2 linked regions of the Homo sapiens genome follow. The protein of the gene in region 2 purifies or fractionates together with the protein of the main gene of each other region. This does not show direct contact. Each region holds a gene or a part of one and is shown on either strand. Other genes may lie near its edges. The genes, in order: PEG10 and BMPR1B.

Region 1 (3,830 bases), on a different chromosome or scaffold from region 2:
TACATGTGATTTGCACCATGATGTGAAGACATAGTCTTAACATGCAAGAGTCCATCTGAGAGAGCACTTTCTTTTCAGGCCTGAGATGTTTCATGTCACAAGGGTTTTTCCTGCTCCTGGGAGAACCAGTCGAGTTGCTGCTCCTTGAGAATTAACAGAACCATGGAAATGGAGTTTGAAGACGGTGAAGTTTCTAAGGGTGCAGCGAGAGGATCACGGAAGCCTTTCCACACTGCACCGATAATTTTGGCTTCCTTAATAAGGCCTCAGTCCTCCAGTGATTTAAAAAGAGGGTACCGAAACCGCAAGAAAAGTCATGTCCTCCTCCTCCTCGTCTCCCCCTCCATAAAGAAATCAGCATTTCCTGCGTTTGTATCAGCTTCTCTGTAAATGTTAAACAGCAAATTTGGCAGCCTATAATTTAGATGGTGATGGAGGTTTTGGCAGGTAAAACCCAGACTTCCAGGACTGGCTGGAAAGTAAACTTATTAATTATTTTAGTTAGATTGGCAGTCAAGGTGGAAAAATGAGAGATCATTTATTGGCAAATACTCTGTTGCTCTCAGAAAATGTTGAAGGTCTTTTGGTGCTTTAGGATGTGTGCCAGTCCAGAGTGGCCCTAACCTTCCATAGCCGTTTCAGAGAGGATGTGCCTCAGGTGGCCTGAAGATACAGTAGCCTAAAATTTAGCACACAGTCACTGATTGAGAAGCTGAACAGGAATAAATTTTGAGGGCAGAGATCCTGAAGGACATGACAGGTATTTACAGGGTACTGTAAGATGGAGGCGGCGGCGGTGGTGGTGGTGGAGGCGGCGGCTGTGGCGGCGGGTACTGTGGTACCGGAGGCTGGCGGTACCAGTGTGGATTCCAAGTGATCATCACAGGTACATATAGTGATCTTCCTTGTCCGTCTCGTCCCACTGGGTACCAGGCGAATCCTACTGGGTAGGTCGGGTACGCGGCATATGTGGGGTATGTTTGGTATCCAGGTATTTGAGGTACGAATTCAGTGTACGTTGCCAGGTGTGCTTGGTCTTCTAAATTTGGAATAGATAGGCGAGGATACTGATTCTGGATAGTAAAATTGTTTGGAGCTCGGCAATCATAAGAAACTTGCAGTTTCCACCCCCTCTTCACCTGGAGAACTTGGGCTCCATTAGGTGCAATCGTTGGAGTAATTAGCCCATCTTTTACATTTCTTGCCACAAAATCTCGAAGAGCTGCCATTTCAGGTTCGGACAGTGAATACACATGTCCACTGGGAATACTGTGTGCTCCAGGTATCATTTCTATGTGAGGGTCAACCAGGCGGTGATCTGGGTAGACGTGCTCATCTACTGGAGTGTACACATTCTGGACATAGTAATACCTCACTGGTTGGTAAACTCTGTATCCATCTACTGGATAATAGAGTGGCGGTTGTGGTGCTGGTGGTGGGAGCGATGGTGGTATTGGAGAATACATCCGGCAGTGGTAGCGGCAGTATTCAGAATCAAAGACGATAGATCGAGTGCTCCATGTGATATTGGGATCATGTGTGCTCAGCCAGCGAACCCCTAGGACGACAGGGAAGAATGGAGACTGAGTCACATCAAATGACAGCACCTCTCGGTGATCTCCCAGGTCAACTATCAGGTCGTGAGTTTCGTGGACAACTGGGCCCGATGCTATGGGGCGCCCATCAATTGCTTCCACAAGTATTGGCCAGTCCTTGATTCTTAGAGGAATTCCATTTTGAGCAACATATTCGTGATCAATGAAGTTGCCAGAAGCACCAGAATCGATCATGGCTCGGACGAACAGGGTGTGTCTGCCCGGAAGATGAATCTGGAGCATCACTTGCAAGTGTGGAGATGAGGCATCATCTTGTGGGGACCTTATTATTTCTGGCCCGGTCGCTGAAGGTCCCTCTACAGCGGGGCCGGGGAGTTTCCCGCCGGCGAAGACTTTGAGGCCTTGGCAGGACAATTGTCAGCGTAGTGACCTCCTGTTCCACAGTAGAGGCACAGGTTCAGCTTTCTGCGTCTTTCTTTTTCTTCCTGCGTCAGGCGCATGCGGGCACCTCCCACCGGCTCGGTTGGATCTACCTGGTGGTGGCTTGCAATGTGAGGCAACACCAGCGCCCGGGGTGGCGAGCGTGGCTTGCGAGCTGCAGCAGCCCTGGCCAGCCTTCTCTCAATGTGAATGCACTGCCCAATCAGAGCAGACAGCGACTTGGCGACCTCGAGGTGGGAGAGCTCCTCCTGAATGTGGTCGCTGAGGCCCTCGTGGTACTGGTCAATCAGCGCAGGCTCGTTCCAATCCAGGTCCTGGGCAATCATCTGGAAAGCATTGGAGTAGTCGATGACAGACCCCATGCCTTGGCGCAGGCGTCTGATCTTGCGTTTGGCAACCTCTCGCCTCTGAGGGTCTTCAAAGACATGCTTCATTTCCATCATGAAAGCTGGGTAGTTGTGCATCAGGTAGTGGGAGCGCTCCAGCTTTGCTGAGGCCCAACGGGCAGCACGGCCGGTCATCATGCTTGTCACGAAGCAGACACGGACACGATCAACTGAGAAATCCCTGGTGCTCTTTTCCATGAAGATCTGGCACTGGGCCATGAAAGGAGCCAGCATGTCTGGGTTGCCATCGAACTTCTCTGGGAGGTCTTCTGGGCACTCTTCCTCTATTGGAGGGGGTGGGGCAGCAGCTGCTGCAGCACCGCGGAGCTCGATGTCATCATCCTCATCCTCAGGGGTGGGTTCCACTTGCTCTCGAAGGGTGGTGTTCTCCTCTGTGAGCTTCTGCACCTGGCTCTGCAGGTTGTTGTTCTCCTCCGACTGCTTCATGACCTTCTCTCTTAAGTTGTTGATCTCTTCAGAGAGCTCGTCCCTTCTTCGTTCGGTCATGTTGGGGACACACGCACTCTTATGGCCGGTGTGCTTGGAGTTGTTGTTGTTGTTGTTGTTGGGGGGAGGGGGAGGAGGAGGAGGTGGGCAGTCGGGACCCAGGGTGACGGTTGGGGTGGGAGGAGACCTCCCAGCTGTAGCTTCACTTCTGTGGGGATGGAGGCCTGGATCCTGGCCCCCTCTTCCACTCCTTCTTTTTTTTGTTTTCAAAACCCGCTTATTTCTGTAAATAAAGATAAATGTATGTATAAATCCAACTTATACATTCAAAGCAGCAAAAGCAGACACAAAGGATTTGGTATTTAAATTATCCCTTGCTCTACGTGCTTACATTAATAATTAGTGAACAAAGAAAATAAACTCTCAAGAGAAAGTTAGTAATCAGCACCATATATAACAAAAAGCAAAGTACTTTTTGATGTTCAAATGACCTTGTCTTCCTCAAAGGCCACCTGTTCATTATGATTCAACAATACATTATCAACAGCATGCTTACCTTTATAAACTATAAAAGAATGTTGAAACCCTCTAAACAAGTAGTTTTGTATTCAAACACAGCAAGAAACTTCAAGGCAAACATGGATACAAAATCAATTATGCAAATTAAAGCCAAAATAATAACTTTTGTTATTAAAGAAGCCAGGCCAAAAATAGTTAATACTGCAACTAATAGAATCTCATTAAAGCAAGAAGGGAGTATTAAAATCACAATGCATGTATTCATCAGCCCTGTGGGCAGGAGGGTACTCTGGCCAACTGTCACAACCCTATTCCACTGCCACCGAGAAGGTAACTGGTTATCAAATCAAACAACCACCACCACAAAAACCACAGGACTGCCTAAATTACTTTTCTGACCATAATTTAAATCCCCAAAGAAAATTCTCTATGGGACAGAAATGGCACTAAGCAGCAATATGTGTATGTCAGTTTCCTTTGT
Region 2 (3,830 bases):
AACGTAGGTCACTGGGGAGCCACAGCAGAGAGTAGAGGGAGGGTGGGGAGTGAGGGTATTTATTTCCTTGGCTCCCTTTTTGTGAGATCAGTTTGGGCTGCCTGTATTCCTGCACTGAAAGTCATTGCTCTTCCCAAGGTATTCTTCTCTATATAACTCTTTCTTTCCAGATTCTGGTAATCTCGAATAACTTCCCTGCTTTTGCTAACCTGGATTTACTGCAATACCCTTGGGGTTCTTTTCCACTACTGCCCACACCCTGTTACATTGTCTGTTTATAAATAAATTCCCTCAGCTTATCAGGAGCTGTGTCAATTAAAGTCCTATTTTCTGTTGATTCAGCTTCTGAAAGCCTGCTCTTTGGAGTCTTCTTGGATTGATAAGAACAGTCGTACTCCCTTACCTGTTTTGGACATCTGCTTTCCACCCCAAATTATATGCTTCTGTCCATGAAACCTAAATTCTTATATAAATACTGTCAATCAGTTTATTGGAACATCTCGTGACTTGATAGTCTGTATATCTTCTATCCATGTGCTTTGTTTCCTTCACTCTTTCACAAATGCAGTGCATCTTTATAGATTCACTGTTTAGGACCAGGCACTGTACTAGGCATTGTGGATACAAAAAGGTGGATGTTTGCCACTATTTGGGAGGACTGGGAAGGGGGCAGGAAATAAACAACTATACATAATAGTTACAATTTAGGTTTGTGATTAGGTTTATTTAAAAAAATAAACGGTGCAGCAGTAGAGAGTAACGGGGGGACTATCATTTACTGAAGATCACAAGCAACTGAAAGGCAGGGCATGTCTAAGTGGCTCTTGTTAACCTGCATATATTATTCAGGCTCTTAATATTTGAATATTAAAAGCTTTTCCCAATGATGACACAAACAATAAATCTTGGCAGGAAAATTAGAAATTTCATATAAACCTTAAGAAAATAAAGTGCTTTATACTATTACCTAAAATTAATAGTTTTGTATATATGTATGTGTGTGTGTATCCCTTAAGAATTTTCTTATGCATTACTATGTATTTTTAAATGAAAATAAGATCATCTGTATCATTTTGTGACTTTCGTTTTGAATTTAATCATGCATCAGTAACCCCATCTACATCAATGTATGCATTCTGAAACATATTTAATGTGTAATCTGATAGTTAAAGATCACAGAGTTCCTCATCTCCCTGCTCGTTATATTTCGTAGACTATTTTAAAAGTTTGATAGACATGAAGAAGAAAAGTGGGCCAATAATCTTGCCACACAAAAACCTCTAGAAATTAAGAGGCACTTGAGAATATATCTGTTTGAATTGTGATGCCTAATAAAATTAAATGACAACAGAGAGGGGACATAATTTAATCAAATCTCTCGTTTAATAATTACATTCTAGAATTTTTTTGAGGTCTAACATAACTGTTATTTCTACTTTGTCACATAGTAAATGAAAAATTGGGGTTTGAGGTAATATGAGCTATTCGACTAATCCAGATAAGGAATTTGCATATAACAGTATGTTTTACCTGATTGCATTTGTTTTCCCAGTGTGTTTCATGGAACAGTGGTTTCGTGGAATGTTAGGTGTGCAGCCCAAGAGGGATCTTATGGATGGCAGCATAGCCTCCTGGTTAACTGTGGGAGTTTGTCTAGGTTTGAATCGTGGCTGTATCATTTCCGAGTTGTGAGACCTTGGGCAAGTTCCTGCACCTTCTGTGTTTTTGTTTCATCATCTGTAAAATGTCAATGACAATAATAGTATTTACATCATAGGGATGTTTGAGAATTAGAATTTTGATTTTTAAAGTGTTTAGAACAGTGATAGGTACATAGTAAACACAAGCGTTTGATAAGCAAGTAAATAATGAAATCTGGCAATTTCTGATGTTTTTAAATTGCAACCCTTTCTGAGCCTTTGTTGTATTAACATGCATTAATATTGACAGTCCCCAAAAGTGGTATTTGATCATGGGACTTGTATTTTTCCCTGTGTATATCATTGGATTTATGTTCCTCAGAACTATGGGAAAAAAATTGATACAAACAATTGGCTAAACATTTTCATCAGTTTATTATCTCCTGAAATGAAGGGATCATTCTTACTGCCAGGAGTTGTTCCTACAATTATCTCACCCATCATAGAACAGGAAACCGGCTCCTGTCTTTTTTTTTTTTTTTTTTAAACTCTTTTTCTTTTTAAAGATAAAAATGAATGCTTTCCTTCACTACCCAGAAAACGACTTCCAGCCCTATACCTGTGAGTATATACTGGGCCTCTGCAGGTCACTGAGCATGAGATTTACAGTGTATAATGTTTTCTAAAAAGTTACTTATTGTTATTTTTTTAATTGTAAAGAATGTTCATTGAAGTGAACTTGGGAAACATAGGGAACTCAAACAAATAAAATCAGTCACTCTTTTTTTAATTTTATTATTATTATTATTTTTTACCACACAGAAGTAGCCACCATTAGCATTTTGGGTCTTTTTTTCTTTACTGAATTGAGAGCATAATATACTGTGGTTTTGTGTCCTTCCTTTCTTTTTCACTTGACTTTATTTATATAATATTCTCAATCCAAGACATGCAGTGATTTCTGGCCTTCAGATGATTGGTAATCTACATTTCAAAAGAGCTTCCTTCCTTACCAAGTTCTGTGGCCAGAGACAATATGAAAATAAAATGGTGTATCTAGAATGAGTTTCTCCCTTATTTTAAGTATTCTCGGAAATTGGAACCACCTGGTAAGCAGTTGGCAATTCTGTTTAAAAGACCTGGAGTAGGTGACCTCAGGTTGCTTCATTTTTATGAGTCATTCCAGTCTTCTAGCCAGAAGCCAGATGGACTCAGAAGAACCCACGACCAGGCTGTTTTGGAGGCATTACTTACTCATCCTGAGTGACTGTGAATGAATTTATATAATGTTGAGATGAACGTGGAAAAATTATCCAGGGAAACCTAAATTATTCCAAAATAAATTTAGCTTAACTACTATTTAAATTTTAAATTGTAAATCTTTTCCCACCATTGCATGTTTGAGGTAGGATTCTAATGATGTACTAATATGTAGGAACAAACATTGTCTCTAAATATTTTATCTTGTCTTATAATTTTGAGTAGGAATTAATATTGAATTTATATGACAGGACATAATGTAAACAAACATGCTGTTTGTTAGGAGCTTTACTTTGTGTACTTCATACATAGTGGATGCTCTAGTGGTTAGAATAAATGTGTCAGTAAGTTGTTTTCATTCAAAAGTCCTTATTCAACAGCTTTGAATCTGCATCTCAAGATTAAATCAATCACTCCTTTAAATACTTATCGTTAACATCTGTAGCAAATGAAAATATTTAAACCCTCTCTGAAGAGAAAAACCATACTACACTGTTTAATTGAATTAAATTAGCTTTTCATGGTAACCTAGGAGCTATTTCTGGAACCAATTTGGAAAATGATCTTTGTATGCTGTGGCATTTATGTTTGATTATGTTTTTCTTAGTAATTCTCAATGGACCAGATTCACTCCTTGCTTCAGTCATCAAACTTTTGTGATTTTTGTAGGCAAATTATGTATTTCCTGCTCCATAATTATGCATATTTATGGATACTATATTCTTCCTCCTCAAATATAGAAGTTGTAAAAACTTCTTAATTCGATAACATAATAAAATTATTTAAATTTTATCATTTCACCATTCTGTGAAGTATGTTAAGACTGAGATAAACAGCCATATATAAATGAACTTCTTCCAAAAAATGTTTCATACGATTTGACTTTTGACACTTACTAAAAAAAAAAGGTATTTATAAAAATGGCAGATA

Evidence for each region.
Region 1: the proteins of BMPR1B (region 2) and PEG10 purify together in Homo sapiens (affinity purification with western blotting; one study listed by BioGRID). This does not show direct contact.

Annotation. Positions count from the first base shown.
Region 1 is NC_000007.14:94,662,617-94,666,446, reverse strand, and holds part of PEG10 (retrotransposon-derived protein PEG10), read right to left. Parts: intron 3,114-3,830; coding exon 1,913-3,113; coding exon of another isoform or gene 765-1,912; 3' UTR 1-764.
Region 2 is NC_000004.12:94,764,241-94,768,070, forward strand, and holds part of BMPR1B (bone morphogenetic protein receptor type-1B isoform b precursor), read left to right. Parts: intron 1-3,830. UniProt on the Homo sapiens protein: On ligand binding, forms a receptor complex consisting of two type II and two type I transmembrane serine/threonine kinases.